Homo sapiens: one gene and its partners. The protein of the gene in region 3 interacts with the protein of the main gene of each other region in a pairwise test. Each region holds a gene or a part of one and is shown on either strand. Other genes may lie near its edges. The genes, in order: CD14, CXCR4 and TLR2.

The links.
Region 1: the proteins of TLR2 (region 3) and CD14 come close enough for resonance energy transfer, tested with the Homo sapiens proteins (one study listed by IntAct).
Region 2: the proteins of TLR2 (region 3) and CXCR4 interact in binary tests that used the Homo sapiens proteins (3 or more experiments, as listed by UniProt).

The regions. Positions count from the first base shown.
Region 1 is NC_000005.10:140,630,912-140,638,235, reverse strand, and holds CD14 (monocyte differentiation antigen CD14 precursor), read left to right. Parts: upstream 1-5,060; 5' UTR 5,061-5,164; coding exon 5,165-5,167; intron 5,168-5,255; coding exon 5,256-6,380; 3' UTR 6,381-6,504; downstream 6,505-7,324. UniProt on the Homo sapiens protein: Coreceptor for bacterial lipopolysaccharide. In concert with LBP, binds to monomeric lipopolysaccharide and delivers it to the LY96/TLR4 complex, thereby mediating the innate immune response to bacterial lipopolysaccharide (LPS).
Region 2 is NC_000002.12:136,114,128-136,122,593, forward strand, and holds CXCR4 (C-X-C chemokine receptor type 4), read right to left. Parts: upstream 4,023-8,466; 5' UTR 3,934-4,022; coding exon 3,919-3,933; intron 3,743-3,918; exon of another isoform or gene 3,402-3,742; intron 2,847-3,401; exon of another isoform or gene 2,616-2,846; coding exon of another isoform or gene 2,349-2,615; intron 2,109-2,348; exon of another isoform or gene 1,813-2,108; coding exon of another isoform or gene 1,786-1,812; coding exon 742-1,785; 3' UTR 222-741; downstream 1-221.
Region 3 is NC_000004.12:153,686,499-153,694,520, forward strand, and holds part of TLR2 (toll-like receptor 2 precursor), read left to right. Parts: exon of another isoform or gene 1-1,403; 5' UTR 1,404-1,549; intron 1,550-1,555; exon of another isoform or gene 1,556-1,847; intron 1,848-8,022. UniProt on the Homo sapiens protein: Cooperates with LY96 to mediate the innate immune response to bacterial lipoproteins and other microbial cell wall components. Cooperates with TLR1 or TLR6 to mediate the innate immune response to bacterial lipoproteins or lipopeptides.

The DNA of each region.
Region 1 (7,324 bases), on a different chromosome or scaffold from region 3:
GTTCAGATTGTATGACCCGACCCCGGCCAATGGGGAAAGGGTACAGGGGCAGGACTTGCGTCAGGAATAAAGGCTCTCGTGCCCCTTTGTTCAGGTGTGCTCTCATGGCGACTGGCCAAGCAGACACCCCTCTGAGCAGAAGTAAAATTGCTTTGCTAATAATCCTTTGTTCGAGTGTTCAATTTCCCTTAGGATTTTGAGCGTTATTCCTAAGAGAAAGAAAAGAAAGAAAGGAAGGAAGAAAGAAAGAAAGAAAGAAAGGGAGAAAAGAAAGAAAGAAAAGAAAAGAGGAAAGGAGGAAGGGAAGAGAGGGGAGGGGGAAAGAGAGAAAGACATTGGTTTGTGGGACAACAGAAAGGCGGGACAACTCGAAGTGGGGCGGTGGGGGGCTTCCAGCTTATAGGTAGATTTTAAATTTTTCTGGTTGACAATTGGTTGAGTTTCTCTAAAGACCTGAAATCAATAGAAAGGAATGTCTGGGTTAAGATAAAGGATTGTGGAGACCCAAGTTCTTATTTGCAGAGGAAACCTTCAAATCCTAGGCTTCAGAGAGAATGGGTTGTAAAATGTTTCTTATCAAACTTAAAGTCTGTGTTGATGTTAACGGTAGAGAGGTATAATGAGGCACGTTCAACCCCTACTTCCCATCATGGCCTGAAACGGTCACTCGGGTTTAATTTTGAAAGAGCCCTGGCTGAGGAGGAAGTCCATTCAGATGGTTGTGGGGGGCGGCCTTAGAATTTTATTTTTGCTTTACAGAATGTTCACCACAATGACCATTATTCTCATTTTATATGTGATGAAAATGAGAAAGATATCATTATTTCACTTCTCTGCATAAAACTGAATTCCCATAATTTTTAGGATAAAATCTTTCACCAAATGTGGAGTGCCACTAGTCTACTAGGCACTGAGGAAACACTAGTGAATAAAAAACCGTGTTCCTCACATTCAAAATTGGAATTGTGGCCGACTTAGCCCTACATGGTCTAACCCCTGCATACCTCTCCAATCTGGACTCACCTCTTCTGGGACCTTCTCTTTGTCAACAAGCCCTGTTCTTTTTCTCCTCCACCCTACTCCCACTCTTGGGGGAGGCTCTCGCACAAGCTGTTTTCTCTGCCTGCATCCTTCCCTTTTCTTTCTACCAGCATCCTTCCCTCAACACCATTCTCAACATGTCAAGTCCAGTGTCACCTACTCAGAACCATTGTACCAATGACCCAGCTTCTTCACAACCCTTTTCACAGCTATCATTAAGTTATAGTGTAATTATTTGATGTTGTCTCCTCCCAGACCCCCTTGGCAGCTCCAGAAGATTAGGGTCCCGGTGGCACCTAAGAATTTTTACAGGAAACCTCTAATTTTTAAAAAGCCATATAACTTAGGCAAAGGTTCAATTAAGTACAAATCTAGGAAAAAGGTTATTCTTAAAACCAATTTCTTTCCCTTGAACTTAATTCTACCCCTTGGAGTTAATCAATGAAGTCTGCAATCTCTTCCACAAAACAGCATGTTAAAATATCTACAGGCCATCATTCCATCCTCCATATCTTCTCTCCCAGTATCCATCCAGCCCCTGGAGAGCCATTTACTGAGTACCTGCTGTGCACCATGCTCTGGCCAGGGATAGGGCCTGGATCTTGAGCCCTTCCTCATGCAACTGTCTGGCTTCTTTTTTTAATTTTTTAATTAAAAAAAATTTATTTTCTTATTTCCCCAAGAAAAACTTTTTTATTTTTATTTTATTTATTTATTTTTTTTTTTGAGCCAGGGTCTTGCTCGGTTGCCCACGCTGCAGTGCAGTAGTGCAATCATGGCTTATCACAGCCTGGAACTCAGCCTTAAATGATCCTTTCAGCTTGGCCTCCCAAAGTGCTAGAATTACTGGCATGAGCCACTGCACCTAACCCAGGCTAGCTTCTAAGACCCACACTTGGCCCAGCAAGGTGGCTCATGCCTATAATCCCAGCACTTTGGGAGATGGAGGCAGGTGGATCACCTGAGGTCAGGAGTTCGAGACCAGCATGACCAACATGGTGAAACCCCGTCTCTACTAAAAATGCAAAATTAACCAGGTGTGGTGGCACGTGCTTGTAATCCCAGCTACTCAGGAGACTGAGGCAGGAGACTCGCTTGAACCCAGGAGGTGGAGGTTGCGATGAGCCAAGATTGCATCATTGCACTCCAGCCTGGGCAACAAGAGTGAAACTCCATCTAAAACAACAACAATAACAACAACAACAAAACCCACATGTGCTCCAGGTGGGGAAGATGAAAAAAGTTCCCAGCCAAAAGCTATATTCTGCCCAGTGTCTGCTCAGACAGCTACAGCTGCCCAAATTGCCTTTCTGTATCTACCTGTCTAGCAACACTGTTAACCCTGTAAGAACCAGCCCCATGTCCTGTCTTGTACAGGGCTGGCTGTTCCTTTCTCCAGACCATGTTCCTCCCCTCCACCCCTCTCCCCCAACAACACAAGCCTTTGGTTTCTCTTCTTTTAAGAGCCCTCTGCACTATGGACGGAAGTTCTGGGTTCATGTTTGCTCTACCCACCTCCTGGAGCACTTCAGGGACTTGTCTTTGTCATGTCTGTGTCCCAGGGCTTTCTACCAACCCTAGTACTCGGTAGACAAATGATAGACATTTGTTGAATCAAGCTGTGAGTTGGAGATCTTTGCAGAACCATCACTGCCCCTCTTAACTTGGAACTCCCCACCCAGAGTGCCTCCCCTAAGATGATGAGGTGTCAGACTTCAGTGGCCTGAGTTCTCTGAAAGCAGAGACTCTGAGAAAGAAGACTAGTCATCAAGACCACACTAAAAAGATGTGTTTCTGTGCCAAAGACTTTACTCACAAACAGGTAATACTATCATCTCCATTTTACAGAAGGGAGGCCCAAGTCTCATAACCTCAGTCGTAAAGCTGGGATTCCAAGACTGGCTATCTGACTTTGAGTCAGATATAATCATATCTTGGTCCTCAGGGATATCACAGAGGCCTGGCATGGCACCAGGGCATGGCCCAGTGCATTGGGGTATGCCCAACAGGACCCGCAGGGGGCAGTGATGAGCCTTCTTGTTTGGATTGGGGACAAATCTGCAGCTACTTCTTTCTCAATTAAAGAGGAAGTGGGAATTTAAAAAAGACTTTCTGCCGGGCACGGTGGCTCATGCCTGTAATCCCAGCACTTTGGGAGGCCGAGGCAGGTGAATCACCTGAGGTCGGGAGTTCGAGACCAGCCTGACCAACATGGAGAAACCCCATCTCTACTAAAAATACAAAATTAGCCGGGTGTAGTGGCACATGCCTGTAATCCCAGCCGCTCGGGAAGCTGAGGCAGGAGAATTGCTGGAACCTGGGAGGCGGAGATTGCAGTGAGCTGAGATCGCGCCCAGCCTGGGCAACAAGAACAAAACTCCGTCTCAAATAAATAAATAAAAGTAAAAAAGACTTTCAGGCCGGGTGTGGTGGCTCTCGCCTGTAATCCCAGCACTTTGAGAGGCCAAGGCGGGCGGATCACCTGAGGTCAGGAGTGCCTGGTCAACATAGTGAAACTCTGTCTCTACTAAAACTACAAAAATTAGCCGGGCATGGTGGTGGGCTCCTGTAATCCCAGCTACTCAGGAATCTGAGGCAAGAGAATTGCTTGAACTTGGGAGGCGGAGGTTGCAGTGAGCCAAGATCACGCCACTGCACTCCAGCCTGGGCAACAGAGCCAAACTCAGTCTCAAAAAAAAAAAAAAAAAAAAAGACTTTCATATAGTTCTTTCCCCAGAGGTCTAGGGATGTGGACCTGTGAGGGCTGTTGTAAATGCGTAGCTCCTTATTCTCTGGGACATTTGTTGTTTTTTTGTTTTGTTTTGTTTGCTGTTTTTTTCATTTTGTTTTGTTTTCTGTTTTTGTCTGTTTTTTGCGAAACTGGTGAGTTACTAATTAATCCTCATTCAACATAGTCCCATCCCTTCCTTCCTAGGGCACAGAGATTGTACTGAGGGGAGGGCAGGAGAGAGCAACGTGCAAGTGGGAAAACTGATTCAAAATACCTTGCTTCACAATTTCAGGACAGAAAATGGATAGTGTAAGTGACCCAGAGACTTGGCCAATGTGTCTCTGTTAAATACATCCACTTTTAAGAAAGTTAGTACTGCCAGGCACAGTGGCTCACGCCTGTAATCCCAGCACTTTGGGAGGCCGAGGCGGGTGGATCACAAGGTCAGGAGTTCAAGACCAGCCTGGCCAAGATGATGAAAACCTGTCTCTACTAAAAAATACAAAAATTAGCTGGGTGTGGTGGTGGGCACTTGTAATCCCAGCTACTCGGGAGGCTGAGGCAGAGAATTGCTTGAACCCAGGAGGCGGAGGTTGCAGTGAGCCGAGATCATGGCACTCTACTCCAGCCTGAGCAACAGAGCAAGACTCTATCTCAAAAAAAAAAAAAAAAAAGAAAGAAAGTTATTACTTAATCAAAGGAGCAAGGAAAAAAAAAGGAAGGGGGAATTTTTCTTTAGACCAACTTCCTTTTCTTGAACCTAATTCTACCCCCCTTGGTGCCAACAGATGAGGTTCACAATCTCTTCCACAAAACATGCAGTTAAATATCTGAGGATATTCAGGGACTTGGATTTGGTGGCAGGAGATCAACATAAACCAAGACAAGGAAGAAGTCAAAGAAATGAATCAAGTAGATTCTCTGGGATATAAGGTAGGGGGATTGGGGGGTTGGATAGTGCAGAGTATGGTACTGGCCTAAGGCACTGAGGATCATCCTTTTCCCACACCCACCAGAGAAGGCTTAGGCTCCCGAGTCAACAGGGCATTCACCGCCTGGGGCGCCTGAGTCATCAGGACACTGCCAGGAGACACAGAACCCTAGATGCCCTGCAGAATCCTTCCTGTTACGGTCCCCCTCCCTGAAACATCCTTCATTGCAATATTTCCAGGAAAGGAAGGGGGCTGGCTCGGAGGAAGAGAGGTGGGGAGGTGATCAGGGTTCACAGAGGAGGGAACTGAATGACATCCCAGGATTACATAAACTGTCAGAGGCAGCCGAAGAGTTCACAAGTGTGAAGCCTGGAAGCCGGCGGGTGCCGCTGTGTAGGAAAGAAGCTAAAGCACTTCCAGAGCCTGTCCGGAGCTCAGAGGTTCGGAAGACTTATCGACCATGGTGAGTGTAGGGTCTTGGGGTCGAACGCGTGCCACTCGGGAGCCACAGGGGTTGGATGGGGCCTCCTAGACCTCTGCTCTCTCCCCAGGAGCGCGCGTCCTGCTTGTTGCTGCTGCTGCTGCCGCTGGTGCACGTCTCTGCGACCACGCCAGAACCTTGTGAGCTGGACGATGAAGATTTCCGCTGCGTCTGCAACTTCTCCGAACCTCAGCCCGACTGGTCCGAAGCCTTCCAGTGTGTGTCTGCAGTAGAGGTGGAGATCCATGCCGGCGGTCTCAACCTAGAGCCGTTTCTAAAGCGCGTCGATGCGGACGCCGACCCGCGGCAGTATGCTGACACGGTCAAGGCTCTCCGCGTGCGGCGGCTCACAGTGGGAGCCGCACAGGTTCCTGCTCAGCTACTGGTAGGCGCCCTGCGTGTGCTAGCGTACTCCCGCCTCAAGGAACTGACGCTCGAGGACCTAAAGATAACCGGCACCATGCCTCCGCTGCCTCTGGAAGCCACAGGACTTGCACTTTCCAGCTTGCGCCTACGCAACGTGTCGTGGGCGACAGGGCGTTCTTGGCTCGCCGAGCTGCAGCAGTGGCTCAAGCCAGGCCTCAAGGTACTGAGCATTGCCCAAGCACACTCGCCTGCCTTTTCCTGCGAACAGGTTCGCGCCTTCCCGGCCCTTACCAGCCTAGACCTGTCTGACAATCCTGGACTGGGCGAACGCGGACTGATGGCGGCTCTCTGTCCCCACAAGTTCCCGGCCATCCAGAATCTAGCGCTGCGCAACACAGGAATGGAGACGCCCACAGGCGTGTGCGCCGCACTGGCGGCGGCAGGTGTGCAGCCCCACAGCCTAGACCTCAGCCACAACTCGCTGCGCGCCACCGTAAACCCTAGCGCTCCGAGATGCATGTGGTCCAGCGCCCTGAACTCCCTCAATCTGTCGTTCGCTGGGCTGGAACAGGTGCCTAAAGGACTGCCAGCCAAGCTCAGAGTGCTCGATCTCAGCTGCAACAGACTGAACAGGGCGCCGCAGCCTGACGAGCTGCCCGAGGTGGATAACCTGACACTGGACGGGAATCCCTTCCTGGTCCCTGGAACTGCCCTCCCCCACGAGGGCTCAATGAACTCCGGCGTGGTCCCAGCCTGTGCACGTTCGACCCTGTCGGTGGGGGTGTCGGGAACCCTGGTGCTGCTCCAAGGGGCCCGGGGCTTTGCCTAAGATCCAAGACAGAATAATGAATGGACTCAAACTGCCTTGGCTTCAGGGGAGTCCCGTCAGGACGTTGAGGACTTTTCGACCAATTCAACCCTTTGCCCCACCTTTATTAAAATCTTAAACAACGGGTCCGTGTCATTCATTTAACAGACCTTTATTGGATGTCTGCTATGTGCTGGGCACAGTGCTGGATGGGGAATTCATCATACTTAGGCTTTCTTCATCCTAACTCCCTAAGAAACCCTATCTGTCCTCCTCAAGAAAAGAACTGCGGGGATAGAAGGAGCCAGGAAAGGACTCCTGGCTAGGGCTGCATGGGAGAAACAATGAGTGTGCAGTCAGGGCTTTCTGAGCAGATTATTGGCATCTGGATTAAAAGGTATTTGCATGATATTTGGAAGATACAAAATATTTCCTCTCCTATGCACTTCCCAAGAGCCAGCTGCTCCCTTTCAAAGGTAATAAAACCCACAGCCATTTGCTTATTTCCTTATTCTTTCTCTCTCTCACACACACACACACTCACACACCCTCCCTCTCCCTCTCTGTCTGTCTCCCTTACCACTCAAGGAAGAGGGACAGCCTCCTATCCTGCACAAGCTCTGAGTTTCATAATATTAGGGTTCCTCTCTTGTAAAACCTCTCTTCACCCGGAGGCTTTCACTGTGTCACTCCCCGACATAATGGGAAATTTGGGCCTAGGGAACTGACGCAAGATACAGTCGGTCTCTGAATTAGAGATCCTGTGTTCTGTTAGAACACATATGCAGATAACCTTTTCAGGCTGACTGATTGGCAAATAGGAAAGCATCTCAGACTCTTCAAAACTTCAGAATAAACAGGATTTGTCCTCTAGTCCACATTAGCTCAGAGACCTACAGCATCAGCCATCAAGAGGTGCTGTTTCTTCTGAGCCCCTTCTTCATTTCAATGAGGAGGCAGCCACA
Region 2 (8,466 bases), on a different chromosome or scaffold from region 3:
CTACATGCCTTTAACCAAGTTACTTAGGCTTTCTGTGCCTCCGTTTCCTCTTCTATAAAATGTAATTAGTAACAGAAGCAGAATCTATCAGAGTTGTGATAAGGGGTAAGTAAAATATTACAATGAAATACCTAGGATAGTGCTTTGCATACCATAAATGTATTACTTTTGTCTTCTACTAGCCAAAAGAATGTCAACAGAAATCAGAACATAACACTAAGTAAGTTTAACATGTACTTTTATTAACAACTTAATACAAGACTGTACACTGTAGGTGCTGAAATCAACCCACTCCTGAAAACTGAAAAACCAGCATTTCTATACCACTTTGGGCTTTGGTTATAAGTGCCATCTTCTACAGCAAAATCACGTCTTAAGAACAGGAAAAACGTTCCACGGGAATGGAGAGATTATCTATGCATAAACAGCTGGGGATCATTTCTAGCTTTACGTGATTCACTACACGCTCTGGAATGTTCAGTTCCCTTTTCTACAGTCCTACCACGAGACATACAGCAACTAAGAACTTGGCCACAGGTCCTGCCTAGACACACATCAATATGAAACAAAAAAAATTTATATAAATAAGTCAATTAAACTTCACAAAAACTAAAGAAACACAAGACAAAAATCCAACAAGCAATAAAAACTGTACAATATTGGTCAGTCTTTTATATCTGAAAAATGTGTAACTTAAAAAAAAGTTATTTATCGTATAAAAAAAAGTCTTTTACATCTGTGTTAGCTGGAGTGAAAACTTGAAGACTCAGACTCAGTGGAAACAGATGAATGTCCACCTCGCTTTCCTTTGGAGAGGATCTTGAGGCTGGACCCTCTGCTCACAGAGGTGAGTGCGTGCTGGGCAGAGGTTTTAAATTTGGCTCCAAGGAAAGCATAGAGGATGGGGTTCAGACAACAGTGGAAGAAAGCTAGGGCCTCGGTGATGGAAATCCACTTGTGCACAGTGTTCTCAAACTCACACCCTTGCTTGATGATTTCCAGGAGGATGAAGGAGTCGATGCTGATCCCAATGTAGTAAGGCAGCCAACAGGCGAAGAAAGCCAGGATGAGGATGACTGTGGTCTTGAGGGCCTTGCGCTTCTGGTGGCCCTTGGAGTGTGACAGCTTGGAGATGATAATGCAATAGCAGGACAGGATGACAATACCAGGCAGGATAAGGCCAACCATGATGTGCTGAAACTGGAACACAACCACCCACAAGTCATTGGGGTAGAAGCGGTCACAGATATATCTGTCATCTGCCTCACTGACGTTGGCAAAGATGAAGTCGGGAATAGTCAGCAGGAGGGCAGGGATCCAGACGCCAACATAGACCACCTTTTCAGCCAACAGCTTCCTTGGCCTCTGACTGTTGGTGGCGTGGACGATGGCCAGGTAGCGGTCCAGACTGATGAAGGCCAGGATGAGGACACTGCTGTAGAGGTTGACTGTGTAGATGACATGGACTGCCTTGCATAGGAAGTTCCCAAAGTACCAGTTTGCCACGGCATCAACTGCCCAGAAGGGAAGCGTGATGACAAAGAGGAGGTCGGCCACTGACAGGTGCAGCCTGTACTTGTCCGTCATGCTTCTCAGTTTCTTCTGGTAACCCATGACCAGGATGACCAATCCATTGCCCACAATGCCAGTTAAGAAGATGATGGAGTAGATGGTGGGCAGGAAGATTTTATTGAAATTAGCATTTTCTTCACGGAAACAGGGTTCCTTCATGGAGTCATAGTCCCCTGAGCCCATTTCCTCGGTGTAGTTATCTGAAGTGTATATCTGCAAAAGAGGCAAAGGAATGGACATTCACTTCCAATTCAGCAAGCATTAACCCAGTTAAAAAAAATTTTTAAAGCAATTTAAAAAACCAATTCAGGCTTGCTTTCTTCAGGAAATTCTGAAGTAGTGGGCTAAGGGCACAAGAGAATTAATGTAGAATCCTACAACTCTCCTCCCCATCTTTTCCCATAGTGACTTCATTATATCCTTCTTTGGTAGAACCAATTACAAAATTCTTTGTTTAGAACAAAAGGGCACTGAGACGCTGAGGGTTTCAAAGTCACATCTTGGCTAACTCCTCTGCCCCGCCCACTAGAGGGAAGAAAAAAAACCTTCCTTAGGAGGAAAAAAAAAATACACACAAAGAGGCCACTCCCAGGCGGCGTGGGGGGTGGGGTGGGTGCTGCTAGGAGGGGCAGTGATTAACTTTTTGTAAGAAGTTTTTCGCCCAGGGAGGGAAGAGGGGAGAAGGGAGGATCACGGGGGGAGGGCGGGGGCGTTGCAAAGACTCATTCTCCTAAAGCGCAAAAACTTAATTTTCCCACGCCTGCCTAAATACAAACCATTCTGGGCTTCAAGCAACTTGTAGTGGGTAAAGAGAATGCGGTCTTAAAACGAAGGCCCTTCGGTGCTTGGGGTATATTGGGCGGGAGTGTCAGAAAATGAACAAACGGCACCTCCTCCCCCAAGCGGGCGCTCCTCCGGTGTGTGGGTCTCTTGCCATCCTCGTGTTTATCACTTGGCGCGTTTGGGACGTTAGGGAGCGGGGCATTTTCCTGGGTGGAGAAGGTAACGGGGTCTGCACCCGTGGTCCTCGCCCCAAGTTTCATTTCCTCACTCTCCCGGGTGGCTTCCCATTACCCCGCCACTGATCCAGTTAACCCGGCCGGAGGTGGGCAGCTGGAAGCCTCCAGGCGGTGGGCACGCGGGGGGCCGGGTCGTCCAGCCCCGGGCCGCCGCGGCTGCCCACTACACCCACGCCAACCGCCCGCAAGCAGCGCTGCAGGGGCTCCGCTGGGCGACACGCCAGGCTCTGTCCCACAGGGTGCTGGGGAGCGACTGGGCGGCTCCGCCGCGAGCGTCTTTGAATTGCGCGCCGCTGCAGGAAACCAAAAACTCCCTAGCAAGAGGGTTTCAAAAGGTTTCTGGAAACCACCGACGGTTAAACATCACAACTGGACTCGGAGAGAGCCAAACGGTTTCCCCACTTGCACCTGCCAGTCTTCGCGGCGGCGACCTGGCAGCCCAGGTGCGGTCTTAACCGCCCCCGCCCCTCACCCCGTACCCGCTCCTATCCCCGGAGCGCAAATCTCAGGGCTGGCAGCTGCGCGGTGTCAAAGGGGAGGTCAAACCACTCCGCTGACCTCTGCACGACCCCAAACTCTCGAACTGCAGGACCCACTCGCGGCCGTGGGGAAGAGGCGCGCTTCGGACGGCGGGAAGGTTTTCCCCCTCAAACCCAAAGCGCGCGGGCGGATCAACTCCTAGCTGCTGCCACCACTCGATCCCCTCAGAGGATCGGCGCGGTGGGTCCACCCGCCTCTCCCGCCCTCTGCCTACTGTGCTGGGAGACTGGCACAGCTCCGTCGGCCGCACAGAGTTTAACAAACACGCACCCAGTGTCAAGAACAGTCACCAGGCGCTTAACCCCGAAGTTAAAGCGGGCGCAATCTCCTCCTGGGAACTCAGCCCAGGCACGCCGCCCTCCGCCTCTAAATTCAGACAATGTAACTCGCTCCAAGACATCCCCGCTTCCCCAAGGAAGAGACCGGTGGTCTGAGTCCCGAGGCAGCGCGCACGCCTTCTCTGCACTTGTGCACAGAATGTTCTTACGTTTGCAAACAGCGTGCAAGCCGCCGCGCGCGGCGGGACTCAAGGGGGAGACACATGCAGCCACTGGAACGCTCTTTCCAGTCGTTTCTCCTCGACTCACAGAGAAAAAGATTCCAATCCTGCTCCCCCCCCACCCACCCGCACTATATAGGCATGGTCAAGAAAACTCCTTTCGGTGACCCTTTTTTGGAGTACGGGTACCTCCAATGTCCTGGCCGCTTCTGCCCGCTCGGAGAGGGGCTGCGCTCTAAGTTCAAACGTTTGTACATTTATGACAAAGCAGGTTGAAACTGGACTTACACTGATCCCCTCCATGGTAACCGCTGGTTCTCCAGATGCGGTGGCTACTGGAGCACTCAGGCCCTCGGCGTCACTTTGCTACCTGCTGCCGCAGCCAACAAACTGAAGTTTCTGGCCGCGGCCGGACTTTTATAAAAACACGCTCCGAGCGCGGCGCATGCGCCGCTGGGGCGGGGAGGGAGAAGGCGGGGTGGGGGAGAGGGGCAGACGCGAGGAAGGAGGGCGCAGGGGCGGGGCGGAGAGGTGCGCGGCTTGGGAAGCCCAGGGGACCCTGCTGTTTGCGGGTGGTCGGTAGTGAGTCCGGAGCCGGACAGGACCTCCCAGAGGCATTTCCTAAGTTTGAGGGAAGCGGGATGCGCCTGAAGACAGGTGGGAAGCGCGGGCTAGGAACGCGTCTCTCTGTGGCGCGTCCATCCTTGCTAAAGTGGATGGAATTCCAGACCTGGGAATGCTACAGTAGAGACACTGAGGCCCAGGGAAGGGGAGTGACTTGCTGGAGTAACCCAACCAGTAGGCGGCAATGCTGGAAGTAGGGCCAAGCTTCCAACGCCATTCCCCGCGCTTTCAGCAGACGCAGCCCATTCAGGAGGTAAAAGGAGTAAAGATCCTTCCTTCGGAGGATGTAGCTATACTTGCACATTCACAGCATCACTAGGGTCAGGTGCAGATAATTAGGAGATACTTTCAGAAGAAGGTAGGATTTGGCATAATTCTGGAGACTGATCAGATGTAGATATGTATTGCTCAGTAATTTCATAATAGCGGTAACCAATTCGCGAATAGTGCTTTATTATCCTAAAAGTATGCTTTATTATAAGAGTAATTTAGCGACCAGTACTTTTTGTAACAGATCACTAGGAACTTGCACAGAATCACTCATTCATTCTCACAACACCGTGTGGGTATTACCATCACAGAGATGCATTTAGTCCGATATTTATAGAAGGACGAACTGCGTGCCACGCACTGTTCTAGGCGTTGGGGATCCAGCGTGAACCAGACAAGGCCCGCATTCGGAGAAACCAGCAAATAAGCCCGGAGAGATGAAATGCCAGGGATGGGCAGGGATTCCAAGCCGGGCTTGAACCCAGGTCTTCGGTCCCCATACTCGGCGTCTTCCACGATTTTGAGCAGAGGACAAGCTTTGGCACGAATCAGAAATTAGGTTGAAGAACTGGGCGGGGCGGAGTGGGGGTGGGGGTCAGACGTTTAAAGCGATCTCAGACTGGCTGAGGTTTGCAGTGGGCGCGCAGACAGTGCTTTCCCCCTCGCGCCACTTCCCTCCGGCGCGGAGACTGGGTGGGGCGGGGGAGCGAGTGTGGGGCGGGGCCGAGAAACTGCGTCCGCAGGCGGGGTGGCCGCTGCGGAGATAGCTGGGACCGAGGCGCGTGCGTCGCGACACGGACCCCAGAGGCCCCCACCCCGAAATGGTCCCGAGGAGAGGGATTGCCCAGACTGCACTCTACACACGATCCCTCTTTTCTATATCAAAAGAGGAAACATTTCAGTCTGGAGTGTTCCAGAGGTAGTTCGGAGGCAGGGAACCTTTTCTCTACAGAGCATGACTTTCCCCCTTTGTCTGGGACCCCTCCCTAATGTTGGTGGTTAAAGGTTCTCATCTACTCTGCACTTTCACTGACACAGGAAAGATGATATCCGGGCCGGGAGATGGGACTCTCAGAAACGAACGAGTTAGGACACACACTAATGGCCAGATAAAATCAATTCTAATATTACATTTGTAGAATTAAAAAAAAAAAAAGAAACTCCAGGTTCTTGGAGGGTGGTGGCTGGAAGAGGTTTCGGAAGCTCCACGCCCCTTCTCACAGGCCTTGCATTACGTATCTCTTCATCTGTATCCTTTATAATATCCTTTATAATAAACGATAACGGTAAGAAATAAAAATGAAAATAAAACCGTAAAAACACTTTTACTTTTTTCGAATCTTTAATAAAACTTAAGGATCTTCATATTTTTATAGACACGGTAGATCCTATCTACTGAAGGTCTAGAATTTCAGAGCGTTTTCATGACTTGCTTTTCACAAAGCCTGGTAGTGGCAGAATCAGTATGTTTTATCCTGGACCGTAAGCTGCACCCTACCTCAAAACTCCTCCCTGCACGATGTCTAAAACCTGAAAGGTGAGATCTCCCAAATCTGTCCAAAAAGGGAAAGAGGAGAAAACTCGGAGCAAAATGGTTTGCATAATAAATATTTGTTGATTGTAGACAGACAAAAGAAAGCTCCTTCCTTTATCTGAAGACTCCTTTCAGATCTTTTTAGGGATCTCTACTAAAAGGAAGCAGATAATTAAAAGAACAATGAGATGCTATTTGGTGACTACCAAATTAGGCAAAAATCCATTTTTTTTCAAAGATAATATTTGGTCTCCGGATTTGAAAAGACCAGCTGTCTCTCGCTTGTCACTGATGGGAATGTGGCTTGGGACAGCCTCACTGGAAAGCATTTTCTATTCAGCAGGAACTTCAGAACAGTAACTCCACTCATAAAAACTTATGCCACAAAGGTATTTGTGGAAACATTTTTTTTTAAATAGTGAAATGTCTGAACATCCCTAAATAACCACTGTTAGTGGAATAGTTGACAAGATTTTGGTTCATCCACATCTGAAATTCCATATGGACATCGCGAATGTTATTTGTGAAGAATTTTTAGTGACATGGGGAAATACTTATGAAACATTAAGTGCAAAAGGCAGGATTCAGAATTGTGTATATAGTGTGATCTCAGTTATGTTAAAATATGCATTTGGAAAATATAGGGAGGAAAACCAAAATGTTTATAGGCGTTTTCCTTGGTGCAGAATTATATTTGATTTTTGCTTTCTTCCTGGGGTTTTTCTATGCTTTCCAGATTTTCTGTAATAGACATGAATCATTTTCATATTCATAAAAAAGCCAACAAATTGTATGACAAAAAGGGAATCAGAAGGCCTCCTTCATGTATGTTTCCACTTCTAAAGTATCTACTAAGATGTCAGACTTTTTTCACAATAGTCCTTTCCCCTTTCAAGGAAGGCTTGTTTTCCAATGGGCTAATCTTAAACTTCTATTTCCACTGGGCTACCTAAACCTTATTCTCAACTATTCTATGATGTTCTTTAAAAAACAAACAAAACTCAAGCATTTACTGAGCGCTTGTTATGTGCAACTGACCTCATATAATCCCCTCAATAACTCTACAAGGCAGGTGCCATTACTTTTATTACATGGTAAAGAAATTAGGGTCTGGAAAGATGAGGAACTGGCCTGTGACCCCGGAATGAGGATCTGCACCCAGTCTGTCTGGCTCTGAAGCCCAGGTCATTTGGCATTTACGTACATACTGCTTTGAGTGGCATCCCTTGTGATGTTACTCAACTTTTAAATGAGTATATGTCATACTCCTATCCCTCCAATATTTTAGGTTCCTTAAAGTGAATGCCCAGATATCCTCTATCCAGCTAGCCCATTGCTGAACAAATACTGGGCTCCTTAATCTTTTACTGAACCTTTCTTAAAAGAATGAATGACTTTCCTGTGTGGCTCTGGCAACAGAGTCAGGCTTAGGGGCTGTCAGGGATTTGGCAGGGTCCCCAACTTCTCAGGTTGGCTTTAGCCCAGGGAATAACTAGCCTTGGCCACAGTTTGGAGGGGATGCTTACAAATCCAGTGACACAGTGGCAAGCATCCTGCCACCTCCTGTTGCTCGCTCTGCAGCTGGTTGATTTGTGTGTGAGTGTGTGTATCTGTGTGTGTGTGATGAAAAGCTGTACTCTGTCCCTAAATTGGCTTCATGTTAGCTAGGCAGAAAGCTTAGGAACAGACCTTTTCCCAGTGGTGGATGGCAGGAGGTTAGAGAAAGGAGGAGGTGCCAGGAGGAGGTGGATGGCAGGAGGCATTAAAGGCCTTCAGAATACACAGGGTCTTCTGGTTCCTTCGCTGGCCCCTCTCCTGTCTCTAAAAAAATTGATCGCTTTTGTTTCTGAAAGAGGAAAAAAGTGCAAACTTCCTTGACAGTAGTAAGGGATACTTAGAGAAAGTTAATGTTTTCCTAAGTGATTAAAAAAAAAAAACAAAAACGGAGACTATTTCTCAAGGCGCAAGTAATTCTAACACAGGGTTACAAATCTCAAAGAGACAATGGTATCAAATGTCAACTATTTCCAAGCTGGTGTTAGGTGGAACAAATTGTCCCTTGCCTAACCACACCCCGCCCTCTCCTCCTTCCCTAAATCCTTCTGTCTCCAACACCTACAGATGAAAAGTGACTTTGAAAACAAACCCAAACCTTCCATCCTACAGTTCTTTACCAATTTAGGAAATTATTACTGTTTTTTGGGGGAGAGCCATTTTTACTCTAGATTTAAGTTGTATCTTGAATGTTGAAAAGGTCTGCCTTCACTAAAATGGGATGATTAGTGATTTCCATCAATGCTTTATAGCAGTCAAGACTAGTCAACAAATTTCCTATACAAAGAGAATAAACTAGACTAGTAAACAAATATAGGCAATTTAGAGCCATCCTGGTAAGTCATTTAAACAAA
Region 3 (8,022 bases):
GGATACTAAAAGGTATAAAGTGAACAGATGCAACCATTTATCAAAAGAAAGCTGTTGTGGCAATATTACTATTAGACAAAATAGAATTAGGAAAAAAATCATAACTGTAGATAAACGTTTCACTAAGTTAAAGGTTTCACTGAGAAGAAATAAAAATTTTGAATTTATAAGTACTTATAACAACATTAAGAAACTAGAAAATAGAAAAAGAATAGAGCCAAATTGACTGAACTAGAAAAATAGAAAATTCATAGAAAAATCCACAATCATAGTGGGAGATTTTATCATACATCTCTCAGTAACTGATAGAAAAACCAGACAAAAATCAATAAGGATAAAGAAAATGCGAACACAATGTAGTTCACATAAGGAACCTATACTACTTCCAACAGCAGCTGAAATCACAGAGCATACTTAAAATCTGACCATATACTGGCTCATAGAGTAAATTGCAATACATTTTAAAGAATTTAAATCATACAGAATATGTCTTCTGACCATAATGCAATTAAAGTAGAAAAGAACAGAAAAACTTATAGAAAATTCTCATATATTTGGAAATTAGTAAATTTCTAAATAACCCATGGGTCAAAAAATAATCAGAATGAAAATCAGAAAATATTTTTAATGACTTATGAAAAAAATTACATATAAAAACTTGTCAGATGCACCTAAACTGTTGCTTAAAGGAAACTTACAACCTTAAGTGCATATATTAGAAATGAAGAGTGACGAAAAATGAATGAGCAAGCAAATACCTTAAAAACTGGAAAAGGAATAGTAAAATAAATCCAGAGAAATCAGAACAGGGGAAATAATAATATAAGAATAGAAATTAATGTGCTAGAAAATAGGGGATCTATCAAGTCAGAAGTTGATTTTTTGAAAATGCTAATAAAAATGATGAACCTCTGGCAAGACAATAAAAGCTGGTACAAATAACTCATCTAAGGAATAAAATTGAGGACCTCTCTTTTGTTAAATGACATAAGCAGGAGGCCATTATCCTGAGACTGTCTCTACACTTTGAGTTCTTACATAATAAACTGCAACCTAATTTAGTATACTACATAAACAAACTGAAACCTAACTTAGGAGCTTTTTTTTTGTAATTAATAGCTAAATTTCCACCAAATCATAAATAGCCAAGCTTTAGCCAATCACAGGCAGCCAACTGATCAGACTATGCCCAAACAAGGTAAATGCCTATTACACCATACCCAAATAAGGCAGACTCCTAGCTGAAGCCAATCAGGTGATTACTATGCTCTTGTGTTTGGCCTATAAAAGCTCACTGCTCACACTGTTGGATGCTCTCTGAAACTTTTGTGAATCTGAGTGCTGCCTGATTCATGAATCATTCTTTGCTAAAATAAACTCTGTCAAATTTAATTTGTCTGAAGTTTCTCTTTTAACAGTGTTTGGTGTTGCAAGCAGGATCCAAAGGAGACCTATAGTGACTCCCAGGAGCTCTTAGTGACCAAGTGAAGGTACCTGTGGGGCTCATTGTGCCCATTGCTCTTTCACTGCTTTCAACTGGTAGTTGTGGGTAAGTTCCTGCTCAGACTTGAGCACTATACATTTGCATTTTCAGCTCTCTGACTTTATTTGAGCAATTCTTTGATGGATTGGCTCCAGAATTGGATTGGATTCAGTGAAGAAACTGAAACTGGACTGGTGCTCTAGGAGGCCTCAAGTAGATAAGGTTACTAGAAGACAGGGAATCCTGGGCTTATCTGGATTTAAGGAGTCTACAACTCCATCTGCAACTCCAGCCGATTTCATTTATAAGAATTATGGACCAAGAACCTGTGCTTTTCTAGAGAAATGTGTGAGCCTTACTAAAGGTAACTTAGAATTACAATGGACTGCTGAGACCAGCTCGGTCGTGGAGACCCTAACCCAGCAGCGCTAGAGGAATCAAAGACACACACACAGAAATGTAGAGTGTGGAGTGGGAAATCAGGGGACTCACAGCCTTCAGAGCTGAGAGCCCCTAACAGAGATTTACCCACATATTTACTGACAGCAAGCCAGTGATAAGCATTATCGCTATAGATTATAGATTAACTAAAAGTATTCCTTACAGGAAACAAAGGGATGGGCCGAAACAAAGGGATAGGCTCTGGCTAGATGTCTGCAGCAGGAACACGTCCTTAAGGCACAGATTGCTCATGCTATTGTTGTGGCTTAGGAACACGTTAAGCGGTTTTCTGCCCTGGGTGGGCCAGGTGTTCCTTGCCCTCATTCCAGTAAACCCACAACCTTCAGCGTGGGCGTCATGGCTGTCACAAACATGTCACAGTGCTGCAGAGATTTTGTTTATGGCCAAATCTGGGGCTAGTTTATGGCCAGGTTTGGGAGCCTGTTCCCACATGTCCCCCTTTTTTGTTTTGCAAAGCAATAAAAGCAAAGGCAGCTTTGTCACAGTGAGCTACTTCTTGCAGGAGTCGGGATTCGCATATGCATACTATACAAAGACAAACAACACAGATTAAAAGCACAACCATCATTGAAATCACAGAGCTTCCAAGTGTCTTTATCTATTTTAATGGGTTAATCACTGCTAATCTGTCTGCAGCTCCTTCAAGCACTCCAGTTCCTGGCATTAAGGTCTGGTGTGCCTGGAATGCTTTAAATATTTGTTCTTTTAATATTGCAATATGGAAAGACAAGTTTGTAGAGTGTCTTCTAGGTGCTTTTTTATTCTTTCCTGAATTTGGTCTTATTTAAGAGCCATTAATAGTTTCCACAAATCCTTATGTTTAGCTCCTACAGCGGGCCATATCATTTGAGGGTGAGGTGCCACTATACCATCATGTTTCCAGATAATAGGAACTCTTGCCATATTTCTTGCTATTTCTACCATCTGACCATTTTGTTTAGACCAGCTAAACATAGTGTGGCCATGGCACGCAGACTGAGAGGTGCAATTTAAGCTAAACATCCCCTTAGGGGACCAATCAATAATGATTCCATAGGAATCACTGCGCAGCACCTCTGCCTATTCTGCAATGCAATCTTCCCAAACAAGTATGTTCATTATTTCTGGCCAGGTCCAATTCTGTTTACAAATAGGTTTTTGAGGGCAATATGCCTCAATTATAGAAACAGATTTATTATGGTAAATACTGAGATCAGAAAGCATGTGTAACTGTGTCATAGAATGATTACATCCAGGCATTATTGCCAGCCAAGATTGATAAATATGCCCAATAAGTATAATTGTTCTCTGTGTTAGCCCTTGTTGAAGGAATACTAATGGCAATGGTGATCACTGCTATCATAGCTATCATTAAATTACTCATTGTGACTGGTTGTCCCACTTTCCTCAGGTTTTCTTCCACCCTCTATGGCAGTTTCTTGATCTGTCCCCAGGTAGATGGCTGTGTTTGATGGTTGTTGCTCGTGATAGTTTGGGTCCTCCTCAGCATCAGTCTCGACATGGCTGCAACCAGAGGGTCCTCGGGATCCTCCCAGAATCTCTTCCTTGGCATCTGGCTCATGATAAGGTTTCAGGTGTCTTGATGGTATCCAAATCAGCTATTGATTCTGGCCTGGAGAAACACAAGCATAACCTCTACCCCAAGTTATTATTTTACCTATTTCCCAACTTTTTGTTGTCAGATCTCTGCACCAAGCCAGTTGTTCTGCTTCTGTTTTTGCAGCTGGTTTCTGTAGATGCTCTTCAGCTGCTGATAGCATCTGGCCTTTAGGCAGGCTCAAAAAATTTAAAGTCATTAATGCTAGATTCAGTTGTATATGGGGTGTCCTGTAATCCCTGTTTCCCCTTTTTGCTTTTGCAACTGCTGTTTCAGGGAGAGATTCATTCTTTCTACAATGGTTTGTCCTTGAGAATTATATGGGATGCCAGTAATGTGTTTAATATTCCATATAGAGAAAAATGTAGCTAGAGCTTGGCTAGTATAGCCTGGGGCATTATCTGTTTTAACAGAAGTTGGAATTCCTATCACCACAAAACACTGCAAAAGGTGATGCTTAACACATGCAGTCTCCTGATTGGCATGTAGCCCAGACAAAGTGAGAAAAGGTGTCCACACATACATGTACATAAGCTAGTCTCCCAAACGAGGGAACGTGTGACATCCATTTGCTAAAGATAATTAGGTTCCAATCCTCGAGGATTAACTCCTCCTGTTAAAGATGAGGAATGCACCATTTGGCAAGTTGGGCATCACTGGATAATAGCTTTAGCTTCTTTCCAGGTACTGTTATATCTGCATTTGAGACCAGAGGCATTAACATGGGTTAAATTGTGAAAGTGTCTAGCATTAGATATTGCAGTAGCAACTAGGCGATCAGCCATTTGATTCCCTTCAGTTAAAGGTCCTGGAAGAGGTGTATGAGCCCTAATGTGAGTGATGTAAAAAGGGTGCATTCTACTCCTAAATGCTGTTTGCAATTGGGTAAATAAAGTCATCAGTTGTTCATCTGTATGAAGTCATAACTGAGCATTTTCAATTAATTGTATGGAATGAACCACATAGGAAGAATCAGAAATCACATTAATAGGCATATCAAAAGCAGTCAATACCTCAATTACAGCTAAAGCTCCACTTTTTGAGCTGAAGTATAGGGCGTGTGAAAAACTTTACCTTTTGATCCAGAATAAGAGGCTTTACCATTACAAGACCCATCTGTAAAAACATTCTCAGCACCTTCAGTTGGTTTAAATTTAGTTATTTTGGGGAGAATCCAATTAGTTAATTTCAAAAATTGAAATAATTTCATTTTAGGAAAATGATTATCAAGAATACCCACAAAGTCAGCTAAATGGGTTTGCCAAGTAAGACTATTTATAGAAGCTTGCTGTATTTGTGCCTTTGTGAGAGGGACAATAATTTTTCCAGGATCATATCCATGTAATTTAACAATCCGAATTCTCCCATTTCTTATCATCGTAGCCATTTGATCCAAATAAGGAGTTAGAGTCTGTGAATTAGTATGTGGAAGAAAAAGCCACTGTACAAAGTCTTGCTCTTATACAATAACACCAGTAAGTGAATGCTGAGTTGGAAAAATTAGCAAATCTAGGGTCTTTTTTGGATCTATTCTATTTATTTGAGATTTATGGATTTGCTTTTTGATTAGCTGCAGCTCTGCCTCAGCTTCTTTTGTTAATTGCTGAGGGCTAATGAGACTAGGATCTCCTCTAAGGATAGAAAATAGATTACTCAGGGCATAGGTGGGAATGCCTAGAGCAGGTCATATCCGATTAATGTCCCCTAGTAATTTTTGAAAGTCATTTAATGTTTTCAATTGATCCCTACGTATAGTTACTTTCTGTGGCACAATGGTAGTGTCATTTACTAAGGTCCCCAAGTAGGAGTAAGGAGTAGTAGTCTGAATTTTGTCAGGAGCTATATAATTAAACTGGCATGAGAAATCGAGTTTTGCAAGTGATCATAACATTGGAGTAATATTTCTTGAGTGGGGGCAGCACAAAGTATATTATCCATATAATGAATAATGTAACACTGTGAAAATTTTTTACGAGTAGGTTCAATTGCTTGCCCTTCATAAGTCTGGCAAATTTTTGAACTGTTTCACATGCCTTGTAGCAACACTTTCCAATACAAATGCTTTAGTATGCTGCAGGTTTTTTACTGCAGGAATTGTAAATGCAAACAGTTCACAGCCTTGCTCAGCTAAGGGGATAGTAAAGAAACAGTCTTTTAAATTTATGACTATTAAAGGCCAATTTTTTGGAATCATAGCAGAAGAAGGCAGTCCCGGCTGCAATGTCCCCATAGGTTGTATAACTGAATTAATGGCTCTTAAGTCAGTTAACATTCTGCATTTACCTGATTTTTTCTTAATTACAAAAACTGGAGAATTCCAAGGGGAAAATGTTGAGCTATGTGTCCTTTTTCTAATTGTTCAGCAACTAAGTCCTCTAAAGCCTCCAGTTTCTCTTTACTCAGCAGCCATTGTGCTATCCAAATTGGCTTATCTGTTAACCATTTTAAAGGTATATAGGTTCTGGAGGCTTAACAATGGCCACCATCAAAAATGATATCCTAAACCTTGGTGGGAACTTTGTCTTTCCGCTTGAAGCATTTCCTTCAAAGCTTGCAAATTTTTTCCTAGTCCCATACCAGGGACATACCCCATTTCATGCATCATATGTTGACTTTGAGGGCTGTATAATTATTCTGGAATTAGAACTTGTGATCCCCATTGTTGTAATAAATCTCTTCCCTATAAATTTATAGGTACAGAAGTTATAATTTTTTGTATAGTCCCAGGTTGTCCATTGGGCCCTTCACAATGCAAAATATAACTACTTTGATATACTTTAAGGGCTTTACCAACTCCAACTATGTTAAATTGAGCAGGTTGAATTGACCATGCAGATGGCCAGTGCTGTACAGAAATGATTGAAATGTCCGCTCCTGTATCTACCAAACTTTTAAATTTCTTTCCCTGAATAGTTATTTCACCAGTAGGATGTTTATCAGTAATTTGATTCACCCAATAAGCTGCTTTGCCTTGTTTATTTGTGCTTCCAAATCTTCCTGTTCATTTAATTTCACTTTTCCCCATTTCCACATATGGCATAATCAGGAGCTGTGCTATATGCTCTCCTGGCTCTGCTTTCCAGGGAACAGAAGTAGATATAACAATTTGAATTTCCCCTTTGTAATCTGAATCAATGACTCCTGTTTGTACTTGCACGCCTTTTAAATTTAAACTAGACCTACCTAGAAGTAATCCTACCATCCCCGCTGGCATCATCTGACTGGAGACAGCAACCTTCTTTAACAGTCCCATTACAAAAGGAGAACCTGTTCCATATGGATTAATAGCTTGTTTAAATTCTTTGAGTAATTTAAAAGGAAAAGGCTCAAATGTAGCTATAATATTTCCCTGTTGATCTACGGGGTATATTCTAACAGGGAACTGCTAAGCCTCTATATCACCCTCTCTTCTAACTTGCTGAATTCCTGGCTGAATAGAACTGAGAGTGGTCGCTCGAGGTGCTGCTCAGTCACTGGGGCGACTACTTTTTGCCCAGTGTCCTCTGGAAAAGAAAGATCTGGAGGATCAGGCTACTCTTTTGCTTCGAAATAATGAGGGGGTGCAGAAGGGTAGGGACAAACCTCTCCCTCCTTTGCCACTTTAGCTTTAGCTGGCAAACAAACCTGCTCTGTCACCTCTTCTGTTACTTCATTATACTTTCCTTCCTCCTCATCTTTAGTGTGAAAAGGTTCCAAGGTGGAATGAGCTAGAGCCCACACTTGCCCATTGTTACCCTGATGCTTCCGAGCTCCCCTTCTTACTCACCATGGGGATTGCTTAAGAGTACTCGGGTATCCTCCAGCTTTGTTCCACGTTTTCCAACCATTGCTCCAGCGAGCCTTCATCCTGGGTTTGAGTCCCCACGTTGGGCGCCACTTGCCGAGACCAGCTCGGTCGTGGAGACCCTAACCCAGCAGTGCTAGAGGAATTAAAGACACACACACAGAAACATAGAGTGTGGAGTGGGAAATCAGGGGATTCACAGCCTTCAGAGCTGAGAGCCCTGAACAGAGATTTACCCACGTATTTATTGACAGCAAGCCGGTGATAAGCATTATTTCTGTAGATTATAGATTAACTAAAAGTATTCCTTACAGGAAACAAAGGGATGGGCCAAAACAAAGCGATGGGCTCTGGCTAGATATCTGCAGCAGGAACACGTCCTTAAGGCACAGATCGCTCATGCTATTGTTTGTGGCTTAGGAATGCCTTAAGTGGTTTTCCATCTTGGGTGGACCAGGTGTTCCTTGCCCTCATTCCAGTAAACCCACAACCTTCAGTGTGGGCGTCATGGCCATCACAAACATGTCACAGTGCTGCAGAGATTTTGTTTATGGCAAGATCTGGGGCCAGTTTATGGCCAGATTTGAGGGCCTGTTCCCAACAGTGGACAAAGAAGAAAAGCTGCTTAAGGCAAACAGGCACATATTTTTTAAAGCTACAATAGCTAGACAAACTAAGAGAATCCTGTGTATGTTT